4 linked regions of the Homo sapiens genome follow. The protein of the gene in region 2 purifies or fractionates together with the protein of the main gene of each other region. This does not show direct contact. Each region holds a gene or a part of one and is shown on either strand. Other genes may lie near its edges.

What was found.
Region 1: the proteins of RPRD1B (region 2) and CTDP1 purify together in Homo sapiens (affinity purification with mass spectrometry; 4 studies listed by BioGRID and IntAct, with this or other methods). This does not show direct contact.
Region 3: the proteins of RPRD1B (region 2) and LIN28A purify together in Homo sapiens (co-immunoprecipitation; one large-scale study listed by IntAct). This does not show direct contact.
Region 4: the proteins of RPRD1B (region 2) and SUPT6H purify together in Homo sapiens (affinity purification with mass spectrometry; 4 studies listed by BioGRID and IntAct, with this or other methods). This does not show direct contact.

The regions. Positions count from the first base shown.
Region 1 is NC_000018.10:79,710,803-79,714,302, reverse strand, and holds part of CTDP1 (RNA polymerase II subunit A C-terminal domain phosphatase), read right to left. Parts: intron 1,332-3,500; coding exon 1,165-1,331; intron 1-1,164. UniProt on the Homo sapiens protein: Processively dephosphorylates 'Ser-2' and 'Ser-5' of the heptad repeats YSPTSPS in the C-terminal domain of the largest RNA polymerase II subunit. This promotes the activity of RNA polymerase II.
Region 2 is NC_000020.11:38,089,246-38,092,745, reverse strand, and holds the end of RPRD1B (regulation of nuclear pre-mRNA domain-containing protein 1B), read right to left. Parts: intron 3,021-3,500; coding exon 2,871-3,020; 3' UTR 382-2,870; downstream 1-381. UniProt on the Homo sapiens protein: Interacts with phosphorylated C-terminal heptapeptide repeat domain (CTD) of the largest RNA polymerase II subunit POLR2A, and participates in dephosphorylation of the CTD by RPAP2. Transcriptional regulator which enhances expression of CCND1.
Region 3 is NC_000001.11:26,424,317-26,427,816, reverse strand, and holds part of LIN28A (protein lin-28 homolog A), read right to left. Parts: intron 2,515-3,500; coding exon 2,330-2,514; intron 1,576-2,329; coding exon 1,359-1,575; 3' UTR 1-1,358. UniProt on the Homo sapiens protein: RNA-binding protein that inhibits processing of pre-let-7 miRNAs and regulates translation of mRNAs that control developmental timing, pluripotency and metabolism.
Region 4 is NC_000017.11:28,660,808-28,665,004, reverse strand, and holds the start of SUPT6H (transcription elongation factor SPT6), read right to left. Parts: upstream 2,801-4,197; 5' UTR 2,663-2,800; intron 2,389-2,662; exon of another isoform or gene 2,320-2,388; intron 1-2,319. Other genes in the region: SDF2 (stromal cell-derived factor 2), read left to right, coding at 3,129-3,279.

The sequences.
Region 1 (3,500 bases), on a different chromosome or scaffold from region 2:
ACGTTTTGGATATTGAATTTTTTTCTGAGTTTGGAGTATTTGCGTTAAACTTACCAGCTGAACATCCCCAATCCAAAAAATCCAAAATACCCTAATGAGTATTTCCTTTAAGCACCATGTGGGCACTCAAAAAGCTTTGGATTTGGGGGAGGAGGGATCCTCCACCTGTAAGGACAACTAGAGGTTTCCGGGCTGCAGACCTGGCGCCACCGTGACCGTAAGCCCCTGCAGACCTGGCGCCACCGTGGCCGTAAGCCCCTGACGACCTGGCGCCACCGTGGCCGTAAGCCCCTGCAGACCTGGCACCACCGTGGCCGTAAGCCCCTGCAGACCTGGCGCCACCGTGGCCGTAAGCCCCTGCAGACCTGGCGCCACCGTGGCCGTAAGCCCCTGCAGACCTGGCGCCACCGTGGCCGTAAGCCCCTGCAGACCTGGCGCCACCGTGACTGTAAGCCCCGGATGACCTGGCACCACCATGGCCACGGTTTCCCAAGCCACGGTCTGGAGGAAGTCAGCAACTCCACGCTGACCCCACCCATCTGGTGAAAGTCTCTACCTTCTACAGGAATGCCCCTAGTTTCACCCTCCCCTGGTCCTAACCTCCAAGTTCCATTTTAGTGACTACAGCAATAAACGTGTGCCTCAAAATATTTTTCAAAAAACTAAAGATCAAAAAACACTTAACTTTCGTAGGGTGGACGTCAGCTGCATGCCTGACTGACAAGTTAAACCACGCTGCTCTCTGGGGCCCCAGCCAGCGCCCAGCCTGACCACTGCGCATGGGGAACGGTTATTCCCCGCAGAGCCACCGCCCCCACATTCACTCTCTCTACAGAACACTATGGCCCAATACCCAGGGATGTGTTTAAGGAAAACTGGGATGAAGGGAGTTATTCGGATGTGTTAGGTTAAACAGCATCCTCTAGTTTTTATTCAACTGGGAAAACGCTTAAGTGAGGGCCATTTTTTTTAAAGCCCAAATTGAAACAACCTAATATCCTGTTTTTCAGTACTCTATAAATAAATCCAATAATCTCTACTGAAACACAAATAAAAAAAGTGTATCTTGAATTTATAGCAGTCAAAACAGAGATAAGAAATAAGAAGAGCTAAACAATAAGCAAATGTGAATTCTTCTAGAGAATCAGGAAGGAGGTTACCCACCTTTCTTTCTCGTCTGAGATTCTCGGGACCCAGGGGGCGCATTCATATCACCCGTGCCCTGGAAGTATACATATTTCTTCACAGTTATCAGATTGGGGGCAAACTTCCAGACATCTTCTCGATCATCAATAATGCAAACCATTGAGTCTCCACAAGGAAAGAGATTTCTACAAGTGAAAATGCATAATTTACAAAAAATAATAATGAAAAGTTGTAGTCATTCATCTTGCCAAGCGTAACAGTTTAAGATTCTAATCCACATGTAACCAGCAGACAGCAGGTTAATCAGACGGACACCAACCGCCCCGAAGCCCTTTCTGTTTGGGTCGCATTTAAACCTCAGTAACATCTTCAGTGCTGTTTCCGATTCTCCTTCAGGCAGGAGTTCCCAAACTGTTTCTTAAAGCGCCAGAGTCACTATTTTAGGCATTACGGGCCACGGGGACGAAACCCAACTCTGACCGTGTGGGCGTGACCATGTTTCAATAAAACTTCATGTACAAACAAGGCTGGGTAGCCTAAAGGCCAGAATTTGCTGACTCTGTAAACAGACCAGGCTAGGCGCTGTGTGGCTAATGCCTGCAATTCCAGCACTTCGGGAGGTCTTGGCAGGAGGGTCTCTTGAGCCTAGGAGTCTGACACCAGCCTGGGCAACATAGGAAGACCCTGTCTCTACAAAACATACAAAAGTTAGACAGGTGTGGGGGTGTGCGCCCGTAGTCCCGGCTACTCAGAAGGCTGAAGTGGGAGGATAGCTTGAGCCCAGGAAGTCAAGACTGTGGTGAGCTGAGACCACACTACTGCACTTAAGCCTGGGCGACCGAGCCAGACCGTCTCAAAAACAAAAAAACAAAAACCAGACCCAGTGCTGATGCAGAATTTCTAAGCGGACCTCCAGCTACCTCCATGCAAACCACAGTACCCACCACTGGGGCCTATCCTGGGCATGTCCCCATTCGATCCTATCATTCTGCCTTCGGGTGACTTTTCCCTGTAACACACTAACAGCACCTCTCATTCTCTTTTGCCCTGATTAATCTACTCACTCTGGCGCTAACTAGCAAAAAGGAGGTTTCTGAAGTAAATACTTTCAGATTCTCTTCTTAGTTAACATTAGCAAGCATAGGTCTCACAGTCTGTGGGGACTGGCCACCGAGAACCAGGAAGTGGCTGAAGCTGAGGCTGTGGCCACCAGGCTCCTCGGGAAAACAAGCCACACCTGACATGGTGTTACATCAGCAAGGACGGACTTCCGGGTGGAAATGGGGAAACTCCTCGAATACAGTGGGCAAGAAACGTCAAAGCATATAAAAGAATATTAAAAAGTCTTTGCGGAGGGGCGGGGAGCGGCCTGCCCTGTCAAAAAGGCTCAGAGGAGCTGACAGGAAGGGGCTCTGGAGCTGATGGAAAGGAAGAAATGGCAAAAGGCAAAAATATGGGCATAATAGTCAAGTGACTTAGGATTTTGTAAATTATTAGTAGGATTAACACAAGCAAGCTCCTAAGAAAATTATCAACCTCAGATGCTGACGCTGATGTCAAGAACTGCCGCTAAACCAGTGGCCCCGCAGAGCTGCTGAGCTTGTGCGTGGGGTGGGGCTATTCACATTCCTCTGCCCACTCGGGTCCTTTCGACTGCCACCTCCCTGATGCCATCCCGTCCCTACGCCTGCCCTCCTGGGTTCTGGGCCCGAAAGTCCAGTCGCTGAGTTCCCCAGGAGCCCTGGCCATTCCCTGGATACTCAGAGGCAAAAGGGCCAAATCCTTCACAGCTGGCTACTGTGGGGACACACGCCTGCCTCCTGCCTCTCCAACCACAAATCTCGATGCCAGGTCTTCGCATAGGAATGAAAATTTGGAGGTCAAGGGACTAGAATGATCACATATGCCAGGGTTGGTTAAGCAAACAGATACACAACGTCAGGTGGCGGGCTGACATCGAATCAGTGCCGTCTGACAGAGATGAGGCAGAGAGGATGACAGATACACAACGTCAGGTGGCGGGCTGACATCGAATTGTGCTGTCTAACAGAGACGAGGCAGAGAGGATGACAGTCCCCGCCTCCACAGACACAAAAGCCCAGCTCAAGGGCAGTTTCAGGGCAGGACAGGGCTATTGGGATGGGGCAGAGCCTGGATTGGGGGCCCTGCACAAGCACCAGGGCTCAGGCACCTGGGAGACAGTGGGAGTACAGGTTAGAAAGGAACTTTCTAAGTATTCTGAGGCTAACAATGAAAACTGGAAAGGGGATGTTAAATTCCTAAAAAACATCAATACAGAAATACTGCTCTAGGCCGGGTGCAGTGGCTCATGCCTGTAATCCCAACACTTTGGG
Region 2 (3,500 bases):
CTGGTGTGAACAAAGGCGCTAAAATCAAAGAACTTCCAAGTTTTAATCTGTCAGAGATTGGCTGTGAAGTATGGGGGAAGAGTCATTTAATCTCTCTCCATCAGTTCCCACTTCTGTACAATGAGGGTAAAACTATGGCGGCACCTCTCATGGGTACTGTGTGGACTGCCTAATTAAAGCTAATTAAGCCCCTGGAAAGAACCAGAAAATACTACGTAAATGCTGAGTATTTATGTGCCGCTAACAGACACAAAAACTCCCAAGGGACAAGATTCTGTGCCGACAGCACATTCTCTATTGGTGATTACTAATCACCCACTGCTTACAAAGAAAGGCACTGTTTTCAGTAACAGGGTAGTTTAAAAAAAAAATCACACAATGTTGTTCAACAACACCATCTTTATTCAAAAATATATATCTATGAGACATTTCAGAATATACTGCTGCCGCCAACGACAGCCTATACTTCTAAATAGTCCTAAATTAATATACAAATTTAAGCTTTGAAAATATTCTTTAAGAAAAACAAACAAACAAAAACAAGGGAAGATTGAAGACTTTCTGAGGAATATGACCTAAAGGAAAGGTCCTTTGAGGCCTACAGATGCCCTAAGAAAGAAAAAACACAAAAACAAAAACCACCCACCCCACCCACCAAGTCACCTCATACATACAAGGAGGAAAGTTCATTTAAATTAAACAAATGAAGTAAGCACACTTTGGGAGGATGTGGACAGCAGAATTAAGATTTAAAAAACGAAAGCATTTCATCAAAACAAAAAACTAACTTCCTCACAGGAAGTCCACTAGTAACAGGTATTAAGAGGCCAACACATTCATTTACATAATTGCTACAGTTTCATTTCTTAACTTTTGCTGTAATAATTATGCACCAATTGCTGGTCAGAGACTCAGTTGGATAAAACAGAGCAGTGGGCTAAATCCATTCTGCTATATTTTCATCTAGTTGATCAGAGCAAATATCTACGATCCTCTTTTGGCTGGATTGTGGCTGCTCAGATCGCACTTCCTTGGTGAAAGCATAGAGTGTCCCAGATGGGCCTGCTCCAAAACACGCTCATCTAGAAAGCAGCACACCACGGGGGGTGGGGGAGAGGTTGGGGAGTGCAGCAGCAGCAAAGATTACAATTTATCTTGCAATTTTAGTGATGTCACCTATGGCCTCTGGAAGAAAAACCTTATAGACTCATTAATTTAACAGTGACAGAACGACAGGCAGTGTCCATAAGCAAACAACACACAGTCTGAATTCAAATCTGAATAACAGCTCAAACACTACTAGGTTCTACACAGAGTTAAACTGAGTATCTGCTATGACTTTTCATTGTTCTCACTTCATGACAAGCAGGAGAGCTTCTGGAAGGGAAGCCCGTTATGCTTTATAAACATAGGTTATGTTTCAATGTGTTTAACATGTAAAATTACATGTAATTTTTGGTGATCCTGGAAGTAGCAACACAAATTAATGGAGATTACAAAGCCCCCTCCACTGAATTCCTTTTTATATAGTTTGGGTTTCAGCCTCTGGTCTATAACTCCTATTACACTACTGGGGCAAATCGCTTTCTGCCCTTTCCAATGTCAAAAATAAGCCTGCCAAATTAGAATGATTTACAATTGGCAGGCTGAACCTTTACTATAAGCAAGATAAAAATTGTCTCTAACTACATTATATAGTCATAATGTCAGCTGACATGATAATAGAATTAAAACCCCCAATTAATATCCCCAACTCCCCGCTTCCCCTGCCCGAGACGAGCTATTCAATAACATCTGACGCAAGTACTCCCCGTCGTGTGGGGACAAGGACCTGTGCAGTGGCGTGACATGACAGACGGACCTGCTCAGCGTCCTATTTGCAGTGATGTTCGAGTTTAGCCACCGTACTGTGGACATGCACCCAGACAGCGGATTAAACGTTAGTGTGTACCCTACTCCCAGAAGAAAGGGTCCAAGAAACACCCACACAGATCCCAAATGCAGCACACCTGTGTGTGGGGCCTTCATCTTTTGGAGCCCACCAATGCCTGCCATCCCTAACAACTGCCTTCGCACCCACCAGGGATCAAGGCATTCTGTTTTTCGGAACGTGCTCCGACAGTGGAGAAGTGCAGCATGGGAAGGTTGTATCTAGGAACTTGAAGCAAATAAATTCCTTTTAATTCATGCTTGTGATCCCTGTTATTCTGTCTCTGAACTGTGCCTTTATGCTCCAGATTAGCTTTGAATCTTATTGCTAGATTCTCCAATCTGTTTACAAAATAAATGCACCTAATCTTCGTGCATCACTAGGAGAAGCAATGGAAAGGGAGGATCAGAGATTTGGCAAACTCTTTATGGCAACGCTACGACAGCTGTGCCTACAACCTTTTGGGGCAGATGCAGCTGGGAAAGCCAACGTCTCCAGGACAAGTGCCTTAGTGGAAGCCCACACCGAACTTGAACAAGCCCAGCCCAGAAAGGAGAAGCTGCTTTCATGATAAAATGCTGTCATGAGGGACAAGATTCTTTCGAAAGCTTCCAGAAGTACACATGATTTTCATAACTTCTTAGGTATAAGGAGACAGTTAAGAATGGAAAACCAACAGGGGGGCATGAAAATATGAAGTGGGAGAAAAAGTCTGTAGTCTTTGCAAATATGAATATAAACCAGATTCCAGTCGCCACTGTTCTGAACTGTGCTCAAGATGAGAGGCTGAAGAGGAGAATCAGAGTCTGAGGTTCTTTCTTGAGGCTGGGGGGCTGGGCGGAAGAAGGGATAGAACCAGGGGCTAGAAGGTTATTTCCAACCATGACTTGCCCTCTTCTTTCTGCTGGTACAAACAGAAATCTGGGACATGACACCCATCCTAGTCAGTTGAAAACAGGTCCCCAGCAGAGGGCAGGGGGGCTAAGCCCCCTGTGACGTTGGGCAGCAGTGAGAGGTCTGGCAAGCTCTGAATATGGGATTTCAGTTCCTTGCGGACCTGGGTTACTCGTGCAAGCTTCTGTTTGTATTCCTAAGGAGATAAAGAGAAGACAATACCGTTAAGTCTGTGCGTGCCGAGGGCATGGGTGCTGCTGGAGCCGGGCAGCTACTCTCGTCCTCGTGTTCTTCCTTGTCCCCACCAGCCTGCCCACCCTGTTCAGCTATATCACAAAGCTAGGGCTTCAAATGCTCAAAAGGCAAAACTTTCTATCAAAAAAGGAACGCAGAGTGCCATATTGGCAACAGTGAATTAAATGGTATTCAATTTAGGGCTTGAGATTTGGAAGTAGAAAGAAATAACACTTGGTATTTGCATTCTCTTTTTGTTGGTTCTCAAAAGTTTCAAAATGCTTTATAAAATAAAACAGACACCTGAGCCTCACAATTTCTTTGCGGACTCCACCTAGATATGGCAAGAAAAAAAACACTGAAGTTATACTTCCTATGTTAAAGCTTGGAGATTAACCTAAATTTATCATGTTTTGCAAACAAGCACTATAGAAGCTCAAAA
Region 3 (3,500 bases), on a different chromosome or scaffold from region 2:
ACCCGAAAATTTTGAAAGGTTAAGGATCTCACCTTACTTCATATATCCATCCCTCGACAGCACAGGATTAAGTACAGGGGTATTGGTCTTTAAACTTATCCTTAGCAACTCTAGTTTTACAAACACACACACACCCTGTGGCACATGGTAGGCCTAACCTAATCTGGTGAAGAACAGATCTGGAGATGTAAAGCACGTCCTGTGCCATAGGATTAGACAACCCTCACCTAATCTTGGCTTGCTCTCTGGCCTTTTCACCGGGCCCAGCCTCTCCTAGCCTCTGTGTACCACCATTTCCTGTTTAGACTAATTCCCAATCTTCCAGTAGAAGGCAATCAAGTCATGGGGCCACCCAGTTAAAACCTAGTCTCCCATAAAACATTTTCAAGGCAGAGGGGGTTTCAAGAGGACACTATGGCAGAAAAGCCAGCTCTTATTGGCAAAAATGAGGTAGTTCAATAGGCTGTGCACTCCAAATAGTTGCTCTCCACGGTGGCAAAAACAACAAAAAGTAATTCCTGCTGCGCAGACCTGGAGCTGCTGCTGGCTATCCCTGAGATTGCTCATGTACCTGAGAACACAGTGCAGGAAATGAGGGCCTTAGATTAAAATATACAAAAATACAAAACCAGAATATTTATATTAAGGAAAAAAAGTTAAAATGCACAAGATACGTCATTCGCACACAGCTAGTGCAGTTGGCATCCTGGAGAAAGTGGGACCCAAGGTGCAGTATCCAAGGGAGCAAATAAATAAAATCACATTGGCCCAGAATGGGGCGGGGGTGAGCATAGAGCAGCAGGTCTGCAGCTGTTCCCCCAAACACCCTTTTTGCCATCATCATTACCCATTGCTTGGGACAGCTGCCAGCACCCTATCCCAAAAGTGGGTATGAGGATACAAGATGTGAAAAAAAAACAATGCTTACTCCTGAGAGATCTCCTTCCACAGAATGTAGTGGCTTGGCTCCATGAATCTGGTCTTATACTTAATCATTTCACTCTGGCATGGGAATTATTATATATCCTTCTTTAAAAGGAAAACAACTTCCCTATCCAGGCCACTTTCAAAAGCTGGAAATTCTGGGGATGGAGACTCAAAGTATGCAGGTTGTAGGGTGATTCCCCCCTCCTGGTTGCCCCCAGAACCCTCACTTGCATTTGGACAGAGCATGGTTGGAGTTCCTTTGACTCACCCTTTCCCCCCACCTAGAGGGAAGAAAGGGTGATGGTGTGAACCCAAGCCTGAGATACATGGCAGTGCCAACTAGCCCCAATGCACCCTATTCCCACTTTCTCCACTCTGCCTGCTCCTCAAAACTTCCTGATAGCAAAAGAATAGCCCCCACCCATTGTGGCTCAATTCTGTGCCTCCGGGAGCAGGGTAGGGCTGTGGATTTCTTCTTCTTCCTCTCGAAAGTAGGTTGGCTTTCCCTGTGCACTAGGGCCCTGCTGGGCCTTCAGCGGACATGAGGCTACCATATGGCTGATGCTCTGGCAGAAGTGGCACTTCTTGGGCTGGGGTGGCAGCTTGCATTCCTTGGCATGATGATCTAGACCTCCACAGTTGTAGCACCTAGTACAAAGCAAGATCGTAAAAGTAAGAGAAAGGAGCAAGAAGAGGCCAGATGCCTCCCACGAATGAGGACACCTGGGCTCTGGTACAGGTTTGTCACTTACTTCCCTTCCCAGAGACCAAACTTCCCACTTGCAAAAGGAGGACTATTACTAAATGATCTCTAAGTCCTTTCCACATCTAATTGTCTAGGTGATCTCTTCAGATTCATGTCAACTTGAAAATACCAAGATACCAGAAATATAAGTTACTGACCCCAACTAGGAACTGCAACTTGGGGGATAGGAGAGATTCTTCCATACCCTTAATATAGGAGAAATTAAAGAAGCCAAATTATAGTATCTGTTCAGAGCTAAGGGGCTTTAAGCCCAAGCAAGATTAAGGAAACCAGCCATTTGCAGACCTGGTAAAGCAGCAACAGATATAGATAATACTGTCTTGTCCCACCATTTGCAAATCTATGATCTCCTTTAATTCTAAAACCATCCTAGGATGTTAGTATCACTGCCTCACTTAACAATTGAGGCTTAGAGACCACAGAGCAAACTTACTTGTCCCAAGTAGCACTAAGTCACCCCCAGTGGCCTCCTCACCTACTGCCCTTGCCCACACCTATTGCAGGCGCTCAGCCTTCCAGATGCTGCCAGGGACCACAGGCTTCCCTTTGTCTTTTGCAGTGTGACCCAAAAAGTGACAGGATTGGGAGACTGGGGATGCCCTTAGCAACCTATATAAGCTGCCTTCCAATCCATACCTGTCTCCTTTTGATCTGCGCTTCTGCATGCTCTTTCCTTTTGGCCGCCTCTCACTCCCAATACAGAATACTCCACCAGGTCCGGTGACACGGATGGATTCCAGACCCTTGGCTGACTTCTTAAAGGTGAACTCCACTGCCTCACCCTCCTTCAAGCTCCGGAACCCTTCCATGTGCAGCTTACTCTGGTGAAGGGAAATGCAGTAAATTTTAACATTAATTTCCATTATTATACCAAAAGACAAGGAACTCTTATTCCTGTAGGGTAGGAATCAAATGTGATGGTACTCCTATTTTACTGGTAAGGAAACTGACTCAAAGAGTCACTACGATTAAGAACAACAAAGTCTACCAGTACATTAACAAAAATCGTAATTATATAAGCAGATGCCATGACATTTTTGTAGCTATTCAGGTTTAAAGTTCTTAATAAAATAGAACAGAGGGCCGGGTACGGTGGCTCACACCTATAATCCTAGCACTTTGAGAGGCTGAGGCGGGAGGATCACCTGAAGTCAGGAGTTCGAGACCAGCTTGGCCAACATGGTGAAACTCTGTCTCTACTAAAAATAAAAAAAATTAGCTGGGCGTGGTGGCGGGCACCTGTAATCCCAGCTACTTGGGAGACTGAGGCAGGAGAATTGCTTGAACCCAGGAAGCAAAGGTTGCAGTGAGCTGAGATCACACTATTGCACTCCAGCCTGGGCGACAGAGTGAGACTTTGTCTCAAAAACAAACAAACAAACAACAACAAACAGAAAAATTTGTAAATACAAGCATTTGGAAGAAATCAACAAATATAAAATTACGAAATTTAAAGTGTCACACTATAGAGGTTGCAGTGAGCCAAGATGGCGCCTTTGCACTCCAGCCTGGGCAACACAGCAAGACTTCGTCTCAAAAATAAATAAATAAAATAAAAGTAAAAATAGCTGGGCATGGTGGCTCAGCCACACACGGTGGCTTACGCCTTTAACCCCAGCACTTTGGGAGGCTGAAGCAGGTGGATCACGAGGTCCAGAGTTCGAGACCAGCCTGGCCAACATGGTGAAACCCTGTCTCTACTAAAAATACAAAAATTAGCCGGGTGTGGTGGTGGGCGCCTGTAATCCCAGCTACTTGGGCAGTTGGGGCAGGAGAGTTGCTTGAACCCCGGAGGCAGAGGTTTCAG
Region 4 (4,197 bases), on a different chromosome or scaffold from region 2:
TACTGTTGTGGTAGCCCAGGCAAAAGATGGTGGTGGCTTGGAATAAGGTGGTAAAAGTGAAGATGGAGAATAGAAGACAGATTACAAAAACATTCTGCAAGTGGAAGTGACAAGACTTACTGAAAGACTGGGGAAGAGGAGTAGTAAAGGAGAAGAACAAAGATGATTCTCAGAGGTCTATCTTTGGTAACCCTGCGGATAGGAGCACCACTCAGTGAAACGGGAGGATAAGGTTTGCAATGATGAGAAAACCAAAACTTTCTTTTGGTTATGTTAGCTTTGGGTGCCTAAGAAATATCCAAATGGAGATAATTAAACAGGCATTTTTGACGCGTGATTCTGCAACATAGAGGAGAGGGCTGGACTAGAGATTTAAACTTTGGAGTTGCCAACTTTCAGGTGGTAATTAAAGCCATGGGGCTGGGTTACCTAAAGGGAAGCATGTAGAAGGCTCGGGATTCCTGTGAGAATTCCAACATATGTAGATATACATATATTTTGAGACGGAGTTTTGTTCTGTTGCCCATGCTGGAGTGCAGTGGCATGATCTCTGCTCACTGCACCTCTGCCTCCCTGGTTCAAGTGATTCTCCTGCCTCAGCCTCCCAAGTAGCTGGGATTACAGGCGTGTCGCCACGCCCGGCTAGTTTTTGTATTTTTAGTAGAGATGGGGTTTCACCATGCTGGCCAGGCTGGTTGTGAACTCCTGACCTCAAGTGATCTGCCCACCTCGACCTCCCAAAGTGCTGGGATTATAGGCATGAGCCACTGCGACCAGCCCCAGCATTTAGACATTAGATAGAGAGCAAAAGTTGCTAGCAAATGAGACTCAGAAGGAACAGCCGGAGAAATGGAGAAAATCCAAGAGTGAAATGTCAATAAAGCCAAGATGAAAGTTTGGAGGCAGGAGTAACTATGTTGAATATTGCAGAGACAGAGGAATATGAGAACAAAGTATCCATTGGATTTGGCAACATAGAAGTCACTGGTGACCTTGATAAGAGCAACTTCAATGGAGTGGGCAAAGTAGATGTGGTGGCACTTGATTACTAGAAGCTGCCTCAGGAGGACTGCTTGAGCTCAGGAGTTCCAGGTGGCAGTGAGCTATGATGGGGCCACTGCACTCCAACCTGGGCAACAGAGCAAGACCCTGTCTCCACAAAAAAAAAAAAAAAAATGGAGTGGGCAGAAGAGAAGCCAGATTGGTATAAAATGAAGAGTGAATGAAAGTTGAGAAAGCTGAGTTGGTACAGGTAGAAATCTATGAATGGAAATTTAAAAAATTGGCATGGTAATTGGAGAGGGATGTGAAGGATACCAGAACATAATTTGTATGCTGATGGGAACAGTTTCAGGGAGAGACAGGATTTGGTGACTGATTTTATTGGGAAATAGTGGACAGGAAGGAAGACAAGGATTACAGGCAGGACTGATGGTAGTGCCATTTATTAAGGTCAAGAATATAGAATCAGGGCAAACGTATTTGCCTACAAAGATCATGTTTCCACCACACTAGGTAGGCTTTCAGAGGAAGAACTGTAAAATTTGACTAAGCCTCTCCAGACGGTACCACTTTCTGATGTAATTAATCTCCTGATGAAGTTAAAACCTCCTAGAGTTGCAAGGCTATGCTAATCCAATCTAGCAGCCACACAAGCCAAGTGAATAAAAATGTACTTGTACTGGTGAAAGGGACATTACTCGTAAAAAAGGGCTCTAAATTCACAGCTGATGGAAGAGCAGTTATGTTTCTGTAATCAAAACACTGAAGACTTACAAACTGGTAACTTCCAGATAAACAGTGGAACCAGACATTTTTCCGAAGAAATTAATCAAATTCAATATTGTTTACACTCCCTAATGCTCATTAATGATGTAGCTTCATACACCCTTGTTACTTTTGATATTACAGTGAATTTCCACGGAAGTATTTTCAGAGATCTTAGCCCTCTGAAATAAGTATCAGTTCTTGCAACAACCCAGGAAAATTAACTTCTCCAGCTGGTTCAAAGGAGTGCCTGAGGAGAAAGGTAGAAACTAGAAGATGGAGTTTTGACTTAATAACTAATTTTGATGTTCATGATAGGCCTCTGGCAAACGTTTGAGGAAATGAATCTATAGAGAATGGACGGGCTTTAGGACTTCTACAAGACCTTCGATCTTTAGAAAGGGATGAAGGATGCAACCATCTACAAAAAGTTCTATTTGTATTATTCAGCAATATGTAAAGAGCTGGAATTTGGCATCGCCCTCTAGCCTGATGGCCGAGCTGCTGAAAGCTCCACAGGATTCATATCCCCAGAACAAACAACTCGATCACCTGATCCTGGCTCAGAAGCCCCAGGTCCCTTCCATCCCCAATCCTTTTGCGTGGCCCAGTTTTAAAAACCTGCGGAGAGAAGGACGGGATGCCAGGAAGCCTGTTGATTCAACGTGCCACCCGATTCACGGGTTCCGGGTGTCACTGGGCTGGGAAAAGCTTTCGGACTCTGAGCAACTACAGCGCTTTCCTCCCCCTTCCCCCCATAGAGCAGGGAAGGCCAGGCTCCCCCTTCTTCCCGCATACGGCTCCCCACTGCCTCTTCCCTTACGTGACCAGGCCCTAGGAGCCCGGTTCCCCACCTGACTCCTGCGAGAAACACGCTCTCCAGTCGGAACTTTACCTGTCTGAAGCCCGCCGCTCCTCCAGTGCGCTAAGCCCCCACCGAGGAAAATGGAGTCGTCGAACCGAGACTGGGAAAAGATAGTACGGACCCACCGCACGGCCCCTCCGCCGCCACCGCCGCCGCTGCTGCGTCAACGTGCTACGTCATTTCCGGCTCCCTGTCACCGGGAGTGGGCGGGCCATTTCTTGTTCTCTCTCCCGCTCTCGGAAGCTTTCGTCTCGTGGGTGCGAAAGGTAACCGAAGCGGCTCAGGAAGGCAGCTGTCACTGAGCCCCTGGAACAGAGCGAGAGTATCGTAAGTAACCAGGCTCAGCCGGTTTCTCAGGCCGCTCTAGTCAAATAAACCATAAAGATCAGACTCGGGCTTCTTCACTTCCTTCTCTCCGTGGTTTCGCCATTAGCTTCCGGTTCCGGGGAGGGGCCGAGTTTTCTTCGAAGATTTGGGGCTCCGCGATACAGTTAGGATGGCTGTAGTACCTCTGCTGTTGTTGGGGGGTTTGTGGAGCGCTGTGGGAGCGTCCAGCCTGGGTGTCGTTACTTGCGGCTCCGTGGTGAAGCTACTCAATACGCGCCACAACGTCCGACTGCACTCACACGACGTGCGCTATGGGTCAGGTAATGCTGGGGACCGGGCTCGGGTGGGCTAGGGAGGACTCGGAGGCTCTGGAGGGGCGGGGCCTATAGAATATCTGACAGTGTGGTCTGGGAAAGTTAGGGGTTCCCTGGGAAGGTTCCTCAGGTCTAGAGAGTCGGAGAACTGAATTGTTCTAAGGCATCTTAATCGCAACACCACCTAATATTTGGTGAGCTACAGGCCAGGCACGTTACCTATGTCCTTTTTCCGATTATTAACATTGTTGTAAGGTGGACAGTATTGTTATCCTCATTTCACAGATGAGGAAACAGACGCAGAGAAATTAAATCGTTTATTCAAAGCCTTGCAGTTAGCAAATGACAAAGTCGGGGTTCTATCCAAATCTATCCAGGTTCAAAGCCTGCTTTAGAGACAAGAAAATTACAGTAAGTGCTGTGTCTGAAATTTTAAAGTTACAGTAAGTACTGTCTGTGAAACTTTAAACTCCAAGAGCTCACTCGTTGACTACAACCCTTTGTCTTCCAGCTCTTCTGCATCTTACACTTGCTCCTCAGTTTCCATCTTTGGCCCCCTTCTACCCAAACCTTAACCTCCTTCTTGTAAGAAACTTGGAGCAGTGACAGGAATTGCAGAGAAAACTGCTTTTTTTTTTTTTTTTTTTTAGCGTTTGAAATTAAAATGTTTAGTAATAAATTATTTGTGGATTCATTCAGCATAGGTCTTAATGAGTTCCTACTACATGGCTAGAATTGTACTACATACAGGAGATTCGGTGGTGATAATCAGTCAAGAAAATTACAATATAATAAAAACAGACTAAAAAAAGAAAGTCTTATCTGCCTGAAAAAAAAAGATAAAGTTAAAAAAAAAGAATGAAGGTCAGCTAGTGAGATGTGAGAGGCATCTAAGATAGCTGGTAGATTTTTGTCTTGAATGAC